2 separate regions of the Homo sapiens genome follow, and region 2 is linked to region 1. A link means that fine-mapping ties the variant in region 1 to the expression of a gene that starts in the linked region. Tissue or cell type: fibroblasts. Region 1 holds a variant in brackets; the other region holds the start of a gene. All regions are shown on one strand. Distances are between the middles of the regions. Region 1 overlaps CFAP91 (cilia and flagella associated protein 91). Region 2 holds the start of GPR156 (G protein-coupled receptor 156).

Evidence for each region. PIP is the estimated chance that this variant, and not a neighbour inherited with it, causes the effect.
Region 2: GPR156 starts here. The variant in region 1 is the best candidate, but not a certain one, in a credible set for the expression of GPR156 in fibroblasts (GTEx, PIP 0.81).

What each region holds. Positions count from the first base shown.
Region 1 is chr3:119,761,172-119,772,675 of GRCh38, forward strand. CFAP91 (cilia and flagella associated protein 91) reads left to right here. Exons shown (of 18, transcript NM_033364.4): 18 at 3,881-5,931. Among named protein-coding and RNA genes, the nearest start is that of NR1I2, 15 kb to the right of the region's middle. The variant T/C (reference allele first, on the strand shown) is at 4,649.
Region 2 is chr3:120,279,273-120,290,776 of GRCh38, forward strand. GPR156 (G protein-coupled receptor 156) reads right to left here and starts at 5,950. Exons shown (of 10, transcript NM_153002.3): 1 at 5,757-5,950. It overlaps LOC124909418 (a long non-coding RNA gene), which reads left to right and starts at 5,884. Exons shown (of 2, transcript XR_007096029.1): 1 at 5,884-7,865; 2 at 8,990-11,451.

The DNA of each region.
Region 1 (11,504 bases):
TGAAAGAGGAGACATTACAACTGATACCACAGAAATGCAAAAGATAAGACTACTATAAACAATTATATACCAACAATTTGGACAATCTAGAAGAAATGGATGTCTAGACACATGCAACCTATCAAGATTGAACCATGAAGAAAATAGAAAATCAGAATAGACCAATAATAAGTAAGAAGATTGAATCAGTAATGAAAAGACTCTCATCAAAGAAAATCCCAGGCAGGACCCAATGGCTTCACTGCTGAATCCTACCAAATGTTTAAATTTCAGTCTTCCAAAAAAATTGAAGAGGAGGGAATACTTCCAAACTCATTTTACAAGGTTAGCATTACTCTTGTTTCAAAACTAGACAAGGATACTACAAGAAAGAAAAATTACAGGCCAATATCCCTGATTAACGTGGATGCAAAAATTCTCAAAAAAAGTAACAAACTAAATTCAACAAATTAAAAGGATCTTTCACTATGATCAAGTGGGATTCATCCTACAGATGCAAGAATGGCTCAACATACACAAATCTATAAATGTGATATACCATATTAACAGAATAAAGGACAAAAATCACATGATCTTATCAATAGATTCAGAAAAAAAATTTGACAAATTCAATATTCTTTCATGACAAAAAAAACTCTTAACAGATTCATTATAGAACAAATGTACCTCAACATAGTAAAGTCCATATATGACAAACCCACAACTAACATCATTCTCAACAGTAAAAAGTTGAAGCCTTTTCTTCTATGATCAGAAACAGACAAGGATGCTCCACTCTTGCTACTTCTATTCAACATAGTACTGGAAGTCTCAGCCAGCACAGTTGGGCAAGAGAAAGAAATAAAAGGCACCCAAATTGGAAAGGAAGAAGTTAAATTGTTTTTCTTTGCAGGTGACATGGTCTTATATATAGAAAACCCTAAAGACTCCAACAAAAAAACTAATAGAAATGATAAAGTAATTAATTTACGGGTACAAAATCAACATACAAAAATCAGTAGCATTTCTATACATTAACAACAAACTATACAAAAAAGAAATCAAGAAAACAATCCCATTTATAATAGCTACAAGGAAAAAAATAAAATACTTACTTAGGAGTAAATTGAATCAAGGAGACCTGTACATTGAAAACTATCAAACATTGATGAAAGAAATTAAAGAAGACACAATTAAATGAAAAGATATCCTGTGTTCATGGATTGGAAGAATTAATATTGTTTAAACATCCATGCTACTTAAAGCAATCTACAGATTCAATGCAATCTCTATCAAAATTCCAATGACATTTTTCACAGAAATAGAAAAGGCAATCCTAAAATTCATATGGAACCATGAAAGACCCCAAATAGCTAAAACAATCTTGAAGCAAAAAGAACAAAGCCATCACACTACCTGACTTAAAAATCTACTGCAAAGCTATGCTAATCAAAACAGCATGGTACTACACACACAGACCAATGGAATGTAATAGAGAGCCCAGAAATGCACCCACAGATTTGTGGTCAATTGATTTTTGACAGAGGTGCCAAGAACACACAATGGGAAAAGGACAGTCTTTTCAATAAATGATGCTGAGAAAACTGGATATCTACATACAGAAGAATGAAATTAGAACCTTTTCTCCACACCATATTCAAAACCCAACTCAAAATGGATTAAATACTTAAGCATAAGTCCTGATACTGTAAAACTGCGAGAAGAAAACATAAGGGAAAAGCTCCTAACATTGGTCTGGATGGTGATCTTTTGGATATGACTCAAAAGCACAGGCAACAAAAGTGAAAATAGACAAAAGAGATTACATCTAACTAAAAAGTTTCAGCACAGCAAAAAACAATAAACAGAGTGAAGAGACAACCTGCTAAGTGGGAGAAAATATGTACAAACCATACATCTGGTAAGAGGTTAATATTCAAAATATGTGAGGAACTCAAACAACTCATTAGCAAGAAAATAAATAACCCAATTAAAAAATGGGCAAAGGACCTGAATAGACATTTCTCAAAAGAAGACACATACAAATGGCCAACAGATACATGAAAAAAATGCCCAACATTACTAATCGTTCGAGAAATGCAAACAAAAGCCACAATGTGATATCACCTCATACTGTTAGAATGGCTATTATCAAAAAGACAAAAAGTAAGTGTTGAGGAGGATGTGAAGAAAAGAGAACCGTTGCACATTGTTGGTGGGAATGTAAATTAGTACAGCCATTGTGGAAAACATTATGGAGGTCCTCAAAAAATAAAAAATAGAACTACCATATGATCCAGCAATTCCACAACTGGGTGTATATCCAAAGGTAATGAAATCAGTGTGTGAAAGAGATATCTGCACTCCCATGTTCACTGCAGCATTAATCACAATAGCCAAGATTTGAAATCAACCTAAGTGTCCACCAACAGATGATGGTATACACACAATTGAATACTATTCAGCCTTAAAAAAAAAAAGAAGGAAATCCTGTCATTTGCAGCAACATGTCTGAACCTGGAGGGCATTATGCTAGGTGAAATAAGCCAGGCACAGAAATACCAGCATAATGCCATGAACCAGGTGTAATGCATCCACACACATACACATATGCTATCACTTGCATGTAGAGTAGAAAAAAGTTGAATTCATAGAAGTAAAGAGTAGAATGTTGGTTGCCAGAAGCTAGTGTGGTAGGGAGATGTTGGTCAAAGGATACAAAATTTCTGTTAGGAAGAGTAAGTTCAAGGGATGCATTGTAAAACCGTGGTGACTATATTTAATAACAATGTGTTATATTTTGAAAATAGCAAAGAGAGATTTTAAGCACCCTTTCCACAAAAAATGAAAAGTATATGAAGTAGTGCATATGTTAATTAGCTTGACTGAGCCATTCTACAACGTGCACGTATTTCAAACCATCATGCTGTACCTGACAAATATATATAATCTTTCTTTGTCAGTTTAAAGTAAATAAATGAAATAGTAAAGGATGTTGGCAGTAAGTCAAAGTAAAATGGAAAGAGAATCAGAAACGGTATTTATGACCTCCAGTGTCTACATATCAACTTTTCCCAAACAATTGTTCCATGGATAACTGCTCTTCAGGACATTCATAAGCAGGGCTGCTCCTGGTATTTGCAAGACCCAGGTCAAGAGGATGAATTGAAGCATCATATCATATGAAAATATATAAAGTTGTAAATTAGGCTAACATACTGTTATATAAAATTTATTCTACCCACCTACTTTCACAAACATATCTTTGAGATGATAACATTGAAAAACGGGTAAGCAGCTATGGGCTTTATGTAATTGAAAGATGGCAAGAACCAAAGATGGTAAGCTTAGTTATTATTGTACATGTCTGACTATTCTGTTTATGGTCCAGTAATATTTGGGCAAGTAATGAAATAAAGGCATACATGGTTTTTTAAAAGTTAGAAATACATATGTATATATACAAACAAATACATATATATATATACATTATGCCTGCAGTATACAGAGAATATTTCTGGAAAGGTCAATAAGAAGTTGGTAGGTAGCTGTTGCCAGGCATGGAAACTGGGGACTGGAGTTCACACCAGGGGAAAAGAGATTTACCTTTCTCATGTTGACATTCTTTTGTATTTTTATTTTTTTATGATGTATGTATACAACCCAGTTAATGTACAGATTTTTTTAAGTGCTAGAATTTGGAAACTGACACACTGTGAAGTAAGAAACATCTGGATCCATAAGGCTTATAAATAGCAGAGCTGGGATATGTGTGGGGCTGTCTGAGTTCAAAGCTAGGGCTCAGACACACTGTATCACAGGAATTTTTTGCATGTATTGATCTGATAATGTTTCTAAAAGATGACATAATCATAAACATTTGTTTTGCTCTTTTTTACAGATTGTGATTTTTTTGTAAAAGAAGCTGTACGAATCATCATAAATAATTCCAATAGTCTGCACTTCTCCCAAGGTGTGCACTGCTCATAAACTTGCCAGTGTGTGATTCATGAGAAAGGAGATTTATTTTCCTTAAACATCCAATAATTTAAAATGATTTTCAATAATAATAATCAAATGAAAAAGCTTCATTCTCTTCAGTGTCTTCTAGATGCCCTACTTAAAGAGAACATTTTCTTATGTCTCATTTCAATATTTTGTTAACTATGAGGATGTGCTGGTTTGTTGAATCAAACAAAAGGAAATGTTGTGGAATATTTTTCCAAGTAGTTTTGGTTCACTATTCACAGGACATTGGCATTATCTACTAAGGCTGAAAATGTGCATATTCCATGACTCAGGATTTTATCTCCTAGATATATATTCAACAGAAATGCATGAGTATGTGCACCAACAGGCATGACAAAAATATTTATAGTAGTGGTGTTCACAATAGTCCCAAACTGGAAACCCAAGTGTCCATCTCCATCGGAACAGAAAACTATACTTTGGTCTGCTTCTACAGTGGCACATCAACCCACCTTTGAGCTTTAGATCTAAGAAGTGTGTTCATGCAACAGCCATAGAGATGGTGCTATTGAAAGGCAATCTGCCCATCCTGTGTATTGACAAGCATCAGGATTCCAGGAGGATTCTTCCTGATTCAAAGACTGTCAAATAGGAAAAAAGAAAACAGTAAATGAACAAAAACATCAACATGGAGTCCAAG[T/C]AATGAATTTATAGAGGAAAATGTATGCTACTCTGAAAACAAAGCTTATGTTAGAGAATATCTTACTGTAAGAAACAAGGAAAATTGCAGAAACATTTGCTGAGTGTTTTTAATAGGAGTCAAAAAGAAAGGGTCTTTTCAGAAACTGAAGTAGGAAATAATAACAGACAAGGTCAAAAAATAGATGCAGGCTGAAAAGAAAAGGAAGTGGGCTAAGATGGGAAAAATATAAAAAGATTTAAAATCCAGCAACAAAATTTACACATTCATTTGGATGCAGTGAAAAGGGCAGAAATACCACAGCAGAGAATAAAATTGATAATGTTGGCAACACATTTATTAAGTGATCCAACATGGGATGGGAAGGAATGGGCAAAGAGATTAAAATGACAGAAGTTAGCTGTAGATGACCTATCCCACAGCAATCGGAGTTCTTGAAGAAGAAACCAGAACAAATAAAATAGAAACAATAATCAGAGTTTAATAATTAATTTTCTGAGTTTTTTTTTAAAAAAACTAATTATACAAACTTGAAAGGGTTCACCTTGCCCTAGCAAAACTAGGATTGGGACACCTTTTTTTCCCCCTGAGGATCACTGACAAAAAACACTGCACCAGTAAGGAAGCAACTAAATTTTGTTTTGTTCTTTGAAAAAGGCTAACCTGAGCTAGGTAAAGGTTATATCATTCACTTTTGAAATAAACCATCGAGAACACAAAATGACAAGTGAGTTAGGTTGGGCTGATGGGATAGAAGGTGGGAGGGGAATGCTATACAGCTGGGAACAGCAGACTTTCTCTGAAGGGCCAGATGGTAACTACATTAGGGTTTGCGGGTCTGATGGTCGCCATCATAACTGCATACTCAACTCTGCCGTTGTAGGGTAAGAGCAGCACTCGATGACACAGAAATGAATGCACATGACTGTGTTCCAGTAAAATTTTATTTTAATTAAAATCAATTCATGTTTGAAAAAGGATTTAAAGTAGCTTCTAATAAAGGACATGTGTAATGAAACTTAAAATATGATATTTTCTTTAAAAATCTTTATCCTTATGTAGACTTCTAAAACTATGTTTTGCATTTAGACAGTCAAGGAAAATACAAGTTGTTATACAATTCTCATTGACTAATTGAAGTTTACTAGGAGAGGAAAACTTTTTCTTGATACCGGCAATCTTTTACTTATAATGGCTTGAGTTAAAATGCTCCAACTTTTCTAATTTTTGCTTTTGAAAATAAAACACCTATAGTGACAATAAAAACACACATTTAAAGCCAAGTGGTCATAGTGACTGGAGCCATGTAGTGAATTGGGGCTAGACTAGTACGATCAATAGCGATACAAAATCACAATGAACTGTCTGAGGCAGAAAACTTTTTGTATGGATGCGTAATCAGATATAGTGAATCATTGTAAAGAGAGGCAGTGCTTTAGCTTGAGGCAAGGTAAAATCCAAAAGGAAAGTGTGCAGTGTGGGTAAAGGATCTCTTTAGGATGCGAAACTGTTAGCACAAAATTGTTGGGAATTCTAAGTTCCTGAAGTGCAGAACTCCCAGACAAATTATGTTAGAGCCTGATTGTTAGTTCAGGAGGAGCTTCCACTGCTAACTCCCATCCTCCTACTCAGTTCTAGGCCACTGGTACCCACTTGAGGGTAGAGTTGTATTTACAAATACTTGGAGTGATTTTATGCAACAAACTGCACAGAGGATTATAGACTCAGTTAATAGGGGAGTGGAGAATGCCAGCAAGCCCCTGAGTTAGAGTGAATGGCCTTCAACTGTGCTTACCAATTGTGGAACAAAAGCCAGCTAGAACCCTAGCAATATAGTAGGGTTATGGGATCTTTGGAGTGTTGCTTTTCTGGCTGGATACCTCCGTGGACAGTGGGGCCTTTGCCTGAGTTCTTGTCCTGTGTCCAGGAAGAATGAGGTATGCAGACAAGTGGAGGGTGAGCAAGATGAAGAGAAGCTTTATTGAGTGTTACAACAGCTCAGAGGAGACCCACAGTGGGTGGCTTCTCTTTGTAGGCAGGTCATCTGGTCGAGTGTTCAGCTCTCAGCAAAAAGGAGGCAATGGAGTGGGTGGCTCCTCTCTGCAGGCAGGTCATCAGGATGAGTATTCAGCTCTCAGCAGAGAAGGTAGCGCCTCTCTGCAACTGGTCATTCAGACATCTCCTCTGCTCTGGCTGAGTCCATGGTTTTTTGATCTTCAGAGAGGGGAAGTGCATGCTGATTGGTCCATGGGTAGCCATGGGCAGGCCCAGGAAAAAGGGATATAAGCTCCCCCTCCAGGCAGCAGGACTGGCAGCCCGGCGCCCAGGCTTCAGGCCTTCTTGGCATGAAGGTGGGACTTCACTGAGGCCCTGCCCCCTTCTGCCCAGGAGCTGTCTGCCTCCCCTGTCATTCATGGCACCCAGGCTCTTCCTGCAAAGGGGTGCCTGCAGGCCAGTGCTGAGCTGCCCTCAGCACCCCCTCAGCTTCCCTCCTGTGCTCTTCAGTGCCCAAAGACAGGAGGGGGCCAAGGCAGCAGGGGGCTGGCATGTCAGCACTGCCCTGAACGTGCGCCCACCCTGCTGGCCTGTGACAGTGCCCTGGCTCGGCCCCAACCTTGCTCCACAATCAGAACATGCACCAGGAGTGGGGAGAAGCCAGGCAGCAGGAGCAGGCACTTGCAAGCCTGTTAGGGTAGGGGGACATTCCAGGGCCCCCAAGAGTTCAGGGATGCCTGAGTCTGCAGCCACAGTTTGGGCAGCTGCAGCTGTGCCCAGCAGCAGGCTCCTGCCTGCTCCCAGTCCCCCAAGAGCAAAGGGAGGCTCACATCTGCAGCCACGGTTGGGTGGCTGAAGCCCTGCTGGGAGGGCAAGGCTCCTGCCTGCTCTGTGGAGTGGGAGGCCAGGGTCTACAGCCATGGTTTGGGTGGCTGCAGTGGCACCGGGGGAGCTCCCACCCCAACTCAGAAGGGGCGGGGCTCCTGCTTGTCCCTAGCTCCCACCAGCTCCATGGAGGGTGCAGCCTTGGCTGCACCTCCCTGCTGCAGCCAGTGTGATGGCAGTGGCAGACCGTCTGATGTGGCCACTGCCATCAGTAGCATGGAAGTTAAGAGAGCAGGCTCTGGACCCAGACTGTCCGGATTGAAATCACAGTCCAAGTTCAGTGTGTCAGACAGGTTATTTAATCCCTGGGTTATTTAAGCCTTAGCCTCCTCATGTGTAAAATGGTATAACCATAGGTTGTACCTCATGAGGTTGATGTCGGGATGTAATGAATCAATTTATATAAAAAGCTTAGCAGGCAACACACGGTAAATACCCAATAAGCACCAGTTAGCTAATTTTACTATCACAAAGGGATAAAGGACAAAAGAGAAATAGGTGGAGCATGTTTCCTGCTTATAAGGAAAACGACCACACCTACCACTGTATAGGCAGTGGCGCAGTGGATATCAGTCTCTAACCCATCAGATGAGTTTCTCGGTCTCATTTGGGGAACAATAAGAGACAGAGAGAATATGGATGTGCTATCATCTGCCCCTCCCCTAACCCCTCCAGCAAGAAAGGGATAGGAATGAGTACCTCATGTTCTGTAGAAACTTGAGGTGTTGAGAATAAGGGCTCCCTCCCTACCAGATATTAGTGCAGTAGAAGGAAGCCATAAGTATTGCGCAGAAGAACTTCCCAGAAAACTTAGCTGCAATCTTGAAGGAGGCACCTTTTATGATAGGTGGCACATGAGGAAACTGGAAGTGAGGACTACAGTGGTTCTTGGCTGTGGCTGCATGCGAAAACCACCTGAGTACTTTAAAAAAAAAGTGCTTCTTGGGTTTCACCTCGGGCCAATTAAGATAGAATCTTTAGAAGGGGAGCCCAAGCAAACGGATTTTTTTTTTAAAGTTTCCCAAGTGATTTAATGTACATTCCAAATTGAGAATAGATGACGTGTTTCCCAAGGAAATTGTCCCTCTCCAAGCATTTACCATTCAGACTTACTACAGAAGATATGTCTTCAGTCCAGGTTCTAATTATATTTTCTTTGTAAAGCATAAAGAATTTCAAAGAAAAAAAATGTGTGAGAAAACATTGATACTGGACATAGTCATAACACTTGGTACTTCCTCAATAACACACTTGATAGTAATTTCCTGCGTAATCGTCTCTCTCACTGGCGTGTGAGGGCAGGGCAGCAGCTGTACCTAGTGAGTTCATTTGTTTTCATTTGCAGTGCTTAGCCAGTCCAGTCTCTGGCACCTATCAATCCCTTAGTAGGTATTTATTGAATGAAATTCTACATACTTAATGTTTGTAAAAGTAAACATGTGTGTGGTTTTAGAGATCATTTATTATGTCTTGGCATATTACGGTATGAAATGAGTTTCAAGGACATAATTCTAATTTATAACATTCATTCCTTATAAACGTTTAACTTTTTGTGATTCAACTTGTGAATGTTATTATCAAGGAACCAAGTAAGTCATAAAGGAAGGGAGAGGCCTTCTGTATGACATCCTAAAAGGAATTTATCCCATTTATCCTTGTACAAAAGACATTCGACAGCTTAAGAAACCTCCAACAGAAGTTTCAGAGAAGAAGCAAAAATGTTCTTTTCACTGTTTCTTTTATTTTTAATAAAAATTAAAGATATTTTATTAAAACATATCTATAAAATCAGCTTTCAATTATGTCAGAATGAAGAGGTCAGCAATACTCCTCCACTAAAAAAAAAAACCATACAACTGGACAAAATTGACAAAAGCATCCAGGGAACTAGAAATCTACTAGAGATGGGCAGCAAGTTGAAAAGCTCCTAGAGATTCAAGGAGAAACAGCAGAAGGCTAATTCTTTCCCCCACCTCCCATCAAGCTCAATCAGCAAGAATCGTAGTTTTCCAGTTTGGAGTTGGCCAAAAACCCAGTGGCTCTTCTGCCAGAGGAGAAATACTTATAAAGTTTTAAATTTCAATATTTAGGGTCGAGAAGTGGCATGAAATTTTGTGACTTTGCATATACTAAAAGTAGCAAACTCAGAAATGAATAGGGAAAGGCCACAGCTTTGTTAGCCCAAGGATGCAGTCCCAGTTGGGGTGAGCAGCAAACCAACCAGAGTGCTAATGGGGAGATCCTGGAAGGGTTGAGACAAGTTTTCCACATACCCCTGGCTGACTGAGAATACGAAAAAACTAACCCAGAAAAAGGAAAAAAAAGGAGAAACATAAGACTAAAATCAAGTTGGGACAAATAGAAAATAAATCACAAAATGATACACCTCAACTCAACTTTAACATGCATTAAATATTAGTGTATTAAACACTCCAAATAAAAGGCACAGGTGTCAAAATGGTTTTTTGTTTTGTTTTTTTTTTCTTAAAATTGTTTTGAAGAAAAGCAAAACCAAGCATATGATTTACAAGAGACACTTTTAAATATAAAAACAGTGATAATGAAAGTAAATAGGTGGAAAATGATACAACAGGAAAATATTTAGCATAAGAAAACTAGACTGGTTCTATTACTACAGCTGGCAAAAAAAAAATTTCAAAGCAGGCAGTATTACCAAAGATAAAGTAGGATATCTCATAAAAATAATAAATGAAAACCAAATAGTCTTATCCATTTATGCCCCTAATAACTGAGCTTCAAAATTCACAAAGCAAAACTAACAAAAAAAGAAGTAAACAAATCTCCAAAGTTGAAGACTTAACACCTTCTTTTCAATAGCATAGAACAATTAGACAAGAAATCAGTAAAGTTTAGAAGATTTTAACAAAACTACATACCTTTGCTTAACACTAATCAGAACACTATACCCAACCACAGCAGAATACATATTCTTTTCAAGTGTACATGGAACATTTATCAAGATAAGCCATATTTTGAGCCACAAAACATCTTTATATGTTTCAAACAATGGAAATCTTATAAAATATGTTATCTGACCACAGAAACAACTAACTTAGAAATCAGGAACAGATACATATTTTTAGAAAATCCCCAAACATTTGGAAGTTAAACAGTGTATCTCTAAATAACCTTTGGATCAAAGAAGAAATAACATGTGAACGATTGAGAAAATACAACTTCAAAATTTGTAGGATGTAGCAAAAGCAGTGCTTACAGAGAAATGGTAGCTATATGCACTCATGTTAGAAAAGAGGCTTAAAACCAGTTATCTAAGTTCCCACTTAAGGAAGATGCAGAAGAAAGGCAAAGTAAAACCAAAGTAAGTAGTAGGAGAGATGTTTTAAGATACACAAGAGCAGAAATTAATGAAACAGAAAGCTTAAAATGATAGAGAAAATTGACAAGAACAAAATTTTATTCTTTGAAGAGACTGGTCAAAAAGGAGAAATCACAAATTATCAACATCACGAACAAGAGGGGTATCACTATAGTGGAAGAGGGAATGTCACTATAGATCTTACAGGCATTAAAAGGATAATAAAGGAATTTTTGAAAACTTTATGACAATAAATATGATAGCTTAGATGAAATGGAAAAAGTCCTTGAAGCAGAATTTACCAAAAAATATACAATGATAAATAGAAAATCTATATAACCTTGTATCTATTAAGTAAATTGAATTTGTTATCAAAAACATTCCCATAAAGAAACATCCAGGCCCAGATGGTTTCAGTGGTGAATTCCATCAAACATTTAAGGAAGAGATAATGCCAATCTTATACAAACTCTTTCAGAAAATATAGAGGAAGCAGTTTGCATCACATTTTAAGAGACCAGTATAATCATATCATCTGACAGAGATAAGAAAATAAAGTTACAGGTCTATATCATGATTACAATTGCAGCATTGGTGGTATAGTGGTGAGCATAGCTGCTTTCAATGATTATGAATGCA
Region 2 (11,504 bases), 520 kb after region 1:
GCTGAAACTTTAAAAAAAGAAAAGGCACTCAATTAAGCATGCACCCTATTTACCTGTTCAGCCAAAAGACTGATTAATGCAGCACTTGAGAGATTCCACCTCACACAGAAAATCAGGAATATTTTAGATAAGAGCCAAGAAAGACTTTATTGGTCTGAAGTACTGCCAGACCAATGACTTCAGGCCCTTACCACACCTTCAACCTAGACCACACCTTTAGGACCTTGGCATTTCCCTAGTTAAGACACCCACTTCTGCCTTCCCTTTCAAGGTTTTCTCAATAACTCTTAGAAAATCAAGATGGAGAGCTGGCAGTGCTGACTGATGGTCTGACATTCCAGTGTAGGCAGATGGCAACATGAAGACCCAGAGCATACTTTCCTGGGTGTTTTCAGTCACTGAAACCCCATGCTACCCATGGCAGCAGAAGAGCAATTCCAACCAGCAAAGCCCTGGGGAGAATCATGAAGGTCCTCCCTTGCCCTTTCCTATCCTTGACCCAAGAAATCCCTTCTCACCATCAGAACTCCAGAGCTTTCTAGCTAATCTCCACATATGCAAAGCTCCTCACTGCAAGACTGAAGACTGACTTTCCCGGGACAATTGTTTCCACAGTTATTTCTTCCCAATGACAACATAAGGTATAGATGACTGACATGTTTAACACTCCTCCCTACTTCACTATTTTTATTATGGGTTAAAAAATCAACATCCTGAGGCATTTTTGAATAGAAATCTGCAACCCAAAGGAAGAAGACATATGGAAGGGGCCTGGCAGTTGTGTCCACAAGTCATCAGTCTGCATGACCTCAACCCCCCAAGTTGCCTCTCTGGTCACAGCCCGATGGCCTGGTCAAAGCAGACCTGGGCTTTGTGGGGATGATTGGCCAGCTGCATCACTTAGCCCTCAGTTGCCTGGCAACCCATGTCTGAGGTATCCTGGCCCAGATTCAGGTGATAAGGGGATACTTAGATCATTGCAACTCCCCCAGCTGAGGCAAAGTGGTCATGAAGAAGTCTAGGGAATGCTGTGGATTCAATCTGACTCAGAATATTCTGAGTGTTTGTGTGCTGGGGGCAGAGAGGTGCCTGGTGAGGCCTGTTTCTGGTCAGTCCCAGGAGTATACTGAGTATATCTGACCTCCTCTGGTTTACCTCTCTTAGAGTAGACCACGTAGAGTCTTCATAGTGTTCTGGACACAGCAGAATATTCTGGAAATGCCTTGGACATAAACATACCTCAAGGCCTTGCCTAGGGTGGATATACTTCCCAAGAACTCCTCAAAATGTAACCCAATCTCTGGCCAAAAGTTACACGGCCCTCCAGCAAACAGACTGAAGTCCATCCTCCTGTGGCCTTCATAAGCTGGCCTTTAGCTCTCCTGCTTTATGTCTTGCTGCAACCCTGCCCTGACCCCCATCCACCCACCTTCTCTCCTTACTCACACCACACCGGCACTTTGGCCCTCACTCTATCATGCTATTCTGTCTCTCTGGAAAGTCCCTTCCACACCGCAGCTGCCAGTCAAAGAGGCACACCTCCTTCAGAACCTGACTCAAAGCCACTTCTTCCTTGAAGAGAAATGTTGACTCCTCTTGGAATAGCTCTCTGGCTCTACTTGGAAACCCTGCCTAGCCTCCACTTCTACTCTCATCCTCTCATAGCAGGTTGTGATAATTACAGCACTCAGCACAGTTGTCTCATATGAACCTCGTCCACATGAGTGTCAAAGGAACTGTGCATTTTACAATGCTGATTCCCCCATTCTTCCACTTGGAATGACTGCATCCCAGCATTCCTCTCATTTTAACAAGTTCTTTTCACTCTCCTCTATGGATTCATACCTTTGTTGGTACTATATTAACAGGCCCCTCTTTACTCAAGCCATTTTTATCAGTACATGTAGCCTTTCTCTTGATCTAGACAGGATTAATGTCAATTTTTCTGTGTGCTCATTCTTCTCCATCCCTAGAAAGCAAGGTGCTCTGTGTGGTAGGGTTTAATAACACAGGGCCGTATCATCCATCACTGTCTGAGTTCTTCACAATTACGACATGCATCTCAGAAAAATGCCTTGAGAAGTCTAGATGGAAACCAATGCCCCATGGAAACACATGAATATTTTATCAGGCTCTGAACAAGACTCTTGCTCATGAATGTTTAAACCCCTCAGTAGCATAATGCTCAGAAGCTGATTAGAGTCAACTTGTGCTGGGATGGGGAAGCTGAGAGGAGGAGGGAAATACAACAGTGATGGCAGCAGGCATTCCACAGTGTCTCTTTCAAGGATTTAAAGCACTTAAGAGTGCACTGGAGGGCTCGCTAATTTGTTAGACACTCATTTTCCAAGTGCTTTCCCTCTAAAGTGGGAAGCAGGTCAGCTCCCAGCAGAGCTGTCTAGAGAGAGCACTGGCTGGGGTACATGCAAGCTGCTACATCAGTCACAGCCCCCATAACCTTGCCATACTTCTCTCTGCATTGGTGGCACAAGGAAGATTTTCATATAAAGTAGAGAAGACTCAAGATGAGGCAGACCCTTTATAGGTTCACAGCAGCTTTGTTCAAAATTGCCACAAACTGGCAACAACCAAGTATCTATCAACAAGAGAACAGATAAACACATGGTCAATATTCATACAATAAATACTACCTTGGAAAAAAAAGAAATGAACTACTGATACACACAATGGCACAGATGAATATCACAGACATTGTGTAGGGCAAAAAGAAGCCAAACACAAGAGTGCATACTGTGTAACTGCAGTTATATGAAATTCAGGAACCAGCAACACTAATCTATGATATTAGAAATCAGAACAAGGTTTGCTGCTTCTGTGGGGTGGAGGTGACTAGAAAGAGACGTGAGGAAAAGTTCTGTGACTGAAATATTTTATGTCTTGTTTGGGATGTGGGTTTGTCAAAACTGGCCAGCTATTAGCATAGGATTCAGCTGAGAAGTGCTGTGAGGATAAAAGAGGCCACTGATCTCCAGGGTCATCATTTACCTATCAAATATTGATTAACTTGAATTATGAATTACCTCAAAGGACTTCTAGTATTTTACCAAGGGTTCTGCCACCCTTATGGGAGTCAATGCCTTATTTGTGTAATTTAGTTACCTAATTAATCCAACAGTTATTTATTAATTGCTCATAATATACCAAATAGGAACACAGCCATAAATAAGACAAAAAAATTCCTTGTCTTGATGGAGTTTACATTAGAGTGGGGAACATGCCCAATTAACAAGGAAACACATATACTATATAGTGTCAGGGAGTGCTAAGTGCCATGAAGAAGGATAAAGCAGGGTCAGAAGACAGGGAGTGACCACAGGCTGTTTTAGATCAGGTGGCCATCATTCTGGAGAGTATGAAAAGAAACTGGAATGAGCTGAGAAAAGAAGCAGTGGCAGTGTCTGAAGGAAGAGTGTTCAGGCAGAGGGAAGAGCAAGGACGATGGTAAGCAAGAGGACGGCCATAGAATATGAGGGCACCAGACCAAATCACAAGCCCTGGTGGAGAGTTGAATGTTATTCACAGTGTGAGGGGAAGCCATTGGAGGGTGTTAAGCAGGAGAGTAATATCATCCAACTGACTGACATTTTAAGAATGGGAAAAAGAAGGCAGTTAAGGGGTCTGCTCAAGATTCTTATGGGAAAGTCAGAAGAATAAGATCCATATTTTTTTCTTAAAATGTTAATATCCTTCACACATCTATATTTGAAACACCTTCTGATTCAAGCTCTGTCCAGGACCAGATCACATATGTCTGGATTCTAAACACTGATTTTTATTAACAAGTTTGTTTTAAGATAATAAGTTTATAAAATGAGAGGTAGAAAACATCTCTGTATGTCTAAAATTTTTCATAATAAAGTACTGGAGAAAAAAAGGTGAGATAGTGATTTGCATCCTTTATCAGGCAAAATTCATCAGCAACTAAACATGAATGTTCTGATTCTCAAGACCTTTGCAAAATAAAGGCTCTGATTTTTTTTTTTCAACTAAATGTAGAACATTTCTTTCAACCCCCAAATCCACCTTTGCAGCCCAAGTCAGTCCACGTTGCACTGTTTCTGCAGCATGTCAGAGCCTCTGGCTTCTTTCCTCTCTCCCCCTTCCCCCAATTAATCTCTGAAACCTACATAAGAATGGAATAAAATGCAAATTCAAGGAGAAGGATGCAGTTTTCAGAGAAGGCCTCATCCTCCTCCTACCCTATAATGGAAATTCCCTTATGGTTAAACAACAAAAATGGAAATATTAAAACCCTCAGCTGAAAACAAACACTTAAGCACCTATTCTCCTTTCCAGAGAATCTGTTTCCCTCAATCATTATTTTTCCACTCTTTTGAGAGCCTTCTAGGCTGAAAGTTGTTTCATCTCACCCATCTTGGGTCTCTCCTAGGTCTCATTTCTGCCTTCACCAGGCTTGAAGTTCTATATCCCTAGGCTATCAGAACTTTGACTCTGACCAGGCTCAATTCTAGACTTTACTGGGGAATGGGGAGAAGCTAAAAGCTGGGGGTGGAAGAGAAGGGGAAACAGAGGGAACATTCCAGAGACAGTAGTGTCCCTGAAGGGGAATTAGGCTGGCAAAATGGGGACCAGAAAGCCACCTCTATTCCTCACAAGGGACACCTAACTCAAGCACAGCCTGCTAAAGCACTTTATTCTCCAGACTCAAATTGCCTTAACCTGTAAGCAAACGCTTCCCCAGCCATTTATCCGCAAGCGCATTTGCCCCACCTGCAGCAATGAAAGAAGCACTGTTTTTGCAAGCCGGGCTGCTACCCAGACTGCGAGGAGACATTCTGTGCAGAATTCAGCCACTGGTGGAGAAAAAGAAGTTTTTCTTTGCAGGCCTTGCTGCCTAATACAACTATATCAACAATTTCTCCCGCTGTGTAAGCCCCATCTGAAAATCTTTCCCTTTTATCTAGGATGCAAAAATGTAATGTTATCCTCCATATTCTGGTTTAAAGAACTACACCAGGAAAGACATTTTATGATAGGCTAGGGCATCATTTACCTCTAATTCAAGCATGCATGTACCTAGAAAACTAACAAAGGGGTAAGTTATGCCATGCCATGACTTCTCTTCCCAGATTTCTATCCTGAAATCTTAACAAAATTCGATTTTAAAAACCTCAAGGTTTGTATTCTTCACGAGTACATGGATACCTTGAGTTCTACCTAGAGGCCTCTAGTTTCTGACAGAGCTAACTTGGAAAGGGCTGCTTGCCAGGGTACAAGGATGTTGCAGCTTCCAGGTGACTCCCTCATGCCCAGAAGCAAGGCAGTTCAACAGACGCAGTGCAATACAATTGTCCCTTTTCAGGACTTTGCAATCTCCATGGGGGAGCCCATCGTGCCCGCCACTCTACACCCTGGGGGTGAACATGCCCTGCAAAGCAGATTCGGCGTGAGGAGACTCTGGAAAGTCTACAGGCGGTGGGAAACTGTTTCGGGATCTCTCATTTTCAGCACAGCCGGTCGCTTATTCAGCAGAAAACCCACGGCCCCATCTTCACACCAAATTACAGTACTCTCCCGTCTCTTCCACTGAAATTGCCACTCGCATCCCTGATGCGTGACCCCTGCTCACCTCAAGTTCCTATGAGAGTTTCTTTACCGGTTCCAAACAAACTGCCCAGATTCTGGAAAGGGAGAGAAAGCCCCTCCCCCTTTCCACTTTCACTTAATAATTAAGTGTTTGAAGTTTTGTGGATCCTTAAGGTCGCTGTGCTCACCTCATCAGCGTCGGACCGCCGAGAAGCGCCAAGCCCGCTGCTATGTGCAGGACGCCCACGGTCCCCCGGCGTCTCGCGCGTTCGCGGGGCTGGAAGGGGCGGGAAGGGGCGGGCCGGGGCAGAGACAGGGGCCCGCGCCCATCGCCGCGCCGGGAGCCTGGCGTGGAGGCGGCGGGACGGCGGCGCAGGCCTCTGAGGTGTGCGCGGGGCGCCGGGCGCCTCTGGCCGGGGCACTGGCTGAGCCACGCCTGCCCGCCCCTCCCTGGCGCCGCCCGCGTGGCGCGCCTCGACCCTGCTCTCCCGCGAGGGCCGGGAGGGCTCCGGGACCTTGCAGACTCCACGCGCCTCACGGCTCCTCCAGCTCCTCGGATCTTTCTCCTTGCGTCGCCGCCGAGTCCCCTGGGGCGGCCCCGCCTCCGGCCGTCTCCTCAGAGACCTTCCCTGGGGGGCGCCTTCCCCTCAGCGCCCCTTCCCGGGCCTCGAGCCAGCGGCTGCCGCAGGAGCTGGCCCCGGGGCGAGGAGCTTCAGATTCAGGTCCCTAGCCGGCCTCGGTAAGGAGACTGGAAGGATTCTCCGCGAATGCTCATTTTTATTTCTGGAGTGGCGTCGGAGTTACCAATTAGTTTTCTTATTTTATACTCTCTGGAGTTGCCAAATTCTTTACGTTGAGCTTTTGCTTATTTTATAATCAGAAAGACAAGTACGTTTCTTTTTCCAAGAATGCTTACAGGAGGCCACAAACAAGATGTTCGCACCCAGCCCACTGTCTTCCGCTTAAAAATATGTGTGAGATGTTGTGTTTAAGACACCCTCAAGGAGAAACATAGAGGGGAGACCTGGAAATGGTCTTGGGAATCCACTTAGACTTTCCATATTATATTTGTTTCATTTATTTTAAAATCTCAGACCTATTTATGTGCATTAGGACATTCCACATTTTTACAACTGCGCAGAGGAAATCTTTGGTTGTAGAGGACGGGAAGAGAGAGGCCAGGTCCGCAGACCCCACTGTGACAAGACAGTGGCTACATTCTTAACTGTTTTACACATTGTGATACCCAAAGACTTCTTTTCACAGGATTCTACTGAGGGGGAAAACAAGAGGAAGAAAGAAAGATAGACAAGGTTTTCCTCAAGGCAGTAAGCAAAAAGCTGGTTTCTCAGAAGAAAGAATTATGTCTGAGATTTTACCCAGGACTCTCCAGATCTCTCATTCTACACAGAAGGACCCTTTCATTTGGAACGTGCAGAAACTGAGGAGGACCATCTCTCTCCTCCATGGGGGCTGCCTGAGTTAAAAAGGCCTGGGTCCATCTTTTTTCCGTAGGAGAGCTGACTTCAGAGTCTAGAGCCAAATCTTCACTTCTGTGGCTCTAGATTGAGGATTTGCCCTTCTGATCTCTGTGGGGCTTTTTTTTTTTAACCTGGGAATTCCCCTGGGCTCTTCGGCTGTTATTCTCATCAACCCCTCTCTATATTCTGCAAGACATTGAAATCTTTCTCCCAGCTTGGCCCCCACCTCCAATCCCAGTATTCTCTTTTCTGAGATTGGAGTATTTCCAACCCCTCAGTTGCCAGGCACTGAAGGTTTTCATCTTCCAGGCCTGCCATGTTTACCTCTGAGATGTTTCTGGCAACTGTCCACTTCTCTGCATTCTCACACTGCTGCTCTTGATAAGCTTCGATTATCTGGGGCTGAATTGTTTCAATAATTTCCTAACTGATTTTCTTGCCTCCTATCTGTCCCCACCACCAACATAGACTTAAGAATGTCACTCTCTTGACAAAACAAGCCAACATCCTCTATCCTCTGTCCCACTCCCAAACCTGCAGTAACTTTCCTGTGCAATTGTAATACAGTGTAAACTTTCATAAGGATGGGGAGTGGCCAAGATGGCTGACCAGAAGCAGGTAATGTACATGGCTCTCACGGAGAGGAACAGAAGGGACGAGTAGATACAACACCTTCAACTGAAACATCCGGGTACTCGCATTGGGATTAATCAAGGAAACAACCTGACCCACAGAGAACAAGGAAAAGCAAGACAGGACAACAGCCCACCTGGGAGCAACAGGGAACCAGGGGATCTTCCCCTGCCCAGGGAAGTGGTAAGTGAATGAGCGACCCCGGAAACCATGCTTCTCCCACAGATCTTTGCAACCCTCCTGTCAGGAGATCTCCTTGTGAATCCACTCCACTAGCAGCAGGGCCTTCAGTCTTCAGTCTGGCAGACAGGGCTACATGGAGTCTCAGCAAAGCAGCCACTCAGGCATGCGTGGAGACCCTGGAGGCTTAGATACTTGGGCGTTCTGGCAAAAGTAGCTGCATCTCCCACAAAGAGGGAGTTTAGACTCCCATTCATACCCCTAAGAAAGAGGCTGAATCCAGAGGGCTGAGCAGCAACAGCCCGCAGGGCCCACTTCCACAACACCTCACACAAGACAGGACCCACTGGCTTGGAATTCCACCCAGCTACCAGTAGCAACATAGCACCTGCCTAAGTAGGAGCTCCCAGGGGAGGGGTAGGCCAACATCTTTGCTGTTCAGGAGCTTTAGCTGTTCCAGCCTTCAGGGTTTGGAGAGTCTGAGACGACCTGGGGCGGTAAGGATGCCCCAGCACAGCACAGCTGCTCTACCAAAATGTGGCCAGACTGCTGCTTTAAGTGGGTGCCCAATCCCATTCCTACTCACTGGGTGTGACCTCCCAACCAGGGCCTCCAGCCACCCTGCCTGAGCTCTTCAGCTGTGACAGAGATCTGAATTCCCCCTGGGATGGCACTCTTAGAGGGAGGGATGGGCTGCCATCTTTGCTGTTTGGCTGACTTAGCTCTTCCAGCCTTTGGGTTGTAGAGTGTCTGAGGTGACCAGGAGCTGAAGTGGACCCCCAGCACAGCACAGCTGCTATACAGAAATGTGGCCAGACTGCTTTTTTAAGTGTGCCCCATCCTGTTCCTCTTCATTAGGTGGGACCTCCCAACCAGGGTCTTCAGCCACTTCCTACAGGTGCCTTTGGGCCAGCAACAGGTCCATACCTCCCTGGGACAAAGCTCCCAGGGGGAGGGACAGGCTGCCATATTTGCTGTATCATAACCTTCACTGGTGACACCTCCAAGTTCTGGAAAATCTGAGGTGACTAGGGACTGGAGCAGGCCCTAAGCATACCAGAGCAGCCCTGTAGAAAAGTGGCCAGACTGTTTCATGGGTGCCTATTCCCATATCTCCTCACTGGCAGGTCCTCCAGGCCTCGGCCTCCAGCCACTCCCCACCAGAGCTATCCAGCCAATACCAACTCAGCGACTTCCAGGACAGTGCCTCCAGGGGCAATTGAAAGGGTCTTAGCCACTGCCTCTGCTGTGGAACTCCCCTTGCCACCCTTGGACTAAAGAAGGAGCAAAGACCCTAAGTGCCTTTTCCATACCAACAAGCTGCAGTAGACCCAAGGAAAGGAGACCAGTCCATCTCCCATGTGTTCCACACTGCTCACTGGACAGGCAACCCCTGGCTTGGGTCCAAAGCACGAACCCTCCTTCTTGGGCTGATTGCACTGAGCAATTGGTAACCTGCATTTTTCTGGGGGTAGAGCCCCCAGGAGTCAAGCAAATGACTCTCGGCCACAGCACCTACTAAGATGAGCCTCTGCTACTTCTAAGCTGGGGAAGGAACATAAACACAGATCACTCCAGAGCTGCAGTGGGCAGTCCAGGGGTGCTAAGTCGTGAACTACAGCCAGCACTCAAGGGGGAGAGGAACCCACACTTTCGGAGCACTGAGAGGGAACACAGCTGCAACTGTGAAGAAACATACAGGAGCAGGAGTCTACCAATTGACCAATAAGCCTAAGTGTCACCTGCAGGATCACACCCCAAAGCTTCAACACGAAAAATATTTCACTAACATACACACCTCTGAAACCAGAGACAAGAAGTCAGCTTCAAATAAAGACCCTATAGAAAGCCTCAGCACAGTGAAAACATCCAAAAAAGAAGTCTGTTGACTGTAGTCAATCTACGTTGCAGTCAAATGAACACCCACACACAGAGATGAGAAAGAACCAATGCAAGAACTCTGGTTACTCAAATGGCCAGAGTATCATACGTCCTCCAAACGATCACACCAGTTCTCCAGCAAGAGTTCTTAACCAGGCTGAACTGGCTGGAATAACAGAAATAGAATGCAAAATATGGATAGGAACAAAGAGATCATCAAGATTCAGGAAGATGGCAAAACCCAATCCAAGGAAAATAAGAATTACAATAAAGTAATACAGGTGCTGAAGGATGAAATAGCCAGTATGAAAAAGAACCTAATTGGTCTGACAGAGCTGAATAACACAATACAAGAATTTCACAATGTGGGCCAGGTGCAGTGGCTCACGCCTGTAATCCCAGCATTTTGGGAGGCTGAGGTGGGCAGATCACCTGAGGTCAGGAGTTCGAGACCAGACTGGCTAATATGGTGAAACCCCATCCCTACTAAAAATACAAAAATTAACCAGGTGTGGTGGTGAGAGGTGACAGCATGCTGGCAACCCTCACAGCCCTCGCTCGCTCTCGGAGCCTCCTCGGCCTTGGTTCCCACTCTGGCTGTGCTTGAGGAGCCCTTCAGCCTGCCGCTGCACTGTGGGAGCCCCTTTCTGGACTGGCCAAGGCCAGAGCCAGCTCCCTCAGCTTGCGGGGAGGTGTGGAGGGAGAGGCACAGGCGGGAACTGGGGCTGGCCCCCATGGCACTTGCGTGCCAGCGCAAGTTCCAGGTGGGCGTGGGCTCTGCAGCCCCGCACTCGGAGCAGCCAGCCGGCCGGCCCCACTGGCCCCAGGCAGTGAGGGGCTCAGCACCTGAGCCAGCAGCTGCTGTGCTCAATTTCTCACCAGGCCTTAGCTGCCCCACCGCAGGGCAGGGCTCAGGACCTGCAGCCTGCCATGCCTGAGCCTTCCCCCCGCCCACCCCTGCCGTGGGCTGCTCAGTGAGCGCCACCCCCTGCTCCACGACACCCAGTCCCATTGACCGCCCAAGGGCTGAGGAGTGCGGGCACACAGCACAGGACTGGCAGGCAGCTCCACCTGTGGCCCCAGTGTGGGATCCACTGGGTGAAGCCAGCTGGGCTCCTGAGTCTGGTGGGGTCTTGGAGCATCTTTATGTCTAGCTAAGGGATTGTAAATACACCAATCAGCACTCTGTATCTAGCTCAAGGTTTGTAAACACACCAATCAGCACCCTGTGTCTAGCTCAAGCTTTGTGAATGCACCAGTCGGCACTCTGTATCTAGCTAATCTGGTGGGGACTTGGAGAATCTTTATGTCTAGCTAAGGGATTGTGAATGCACCAGTCGGCATTCTGTATCTAGCTCAAGGTTTGTAAATGCACCAATCAGCACTCTGTGTCTAGCTCAGCGTTTGTAAATACACCAATCAACACTCTGTATCTAGCTGACCTAGTGGGGACATGGAGAACTTTTGTGTCTAGCTCAGGGATTGTAAACGCACCAATCAGCACCCTGTCAAAACGGACCAATCAGCTGTCTGTAAAATGGACCAATTGGCTCTCTGTAAAATGGACCAATCAGCAGGATGTGGGTGGGGCCAGATAAGGGAATAAAAGCAGGCTGCCCGAGCCAGCAGTGGCAATCCACTCGCGTCCCCTTCCGCACTGTGGAAGCTTTGTTCTTTCGCTCATTGCAATAAATCTTGCTGGTGCTCACTCTTTGGGTCCACACTGCCTTTATGAGCTGTAACATTCACGGCGAAGGTCTC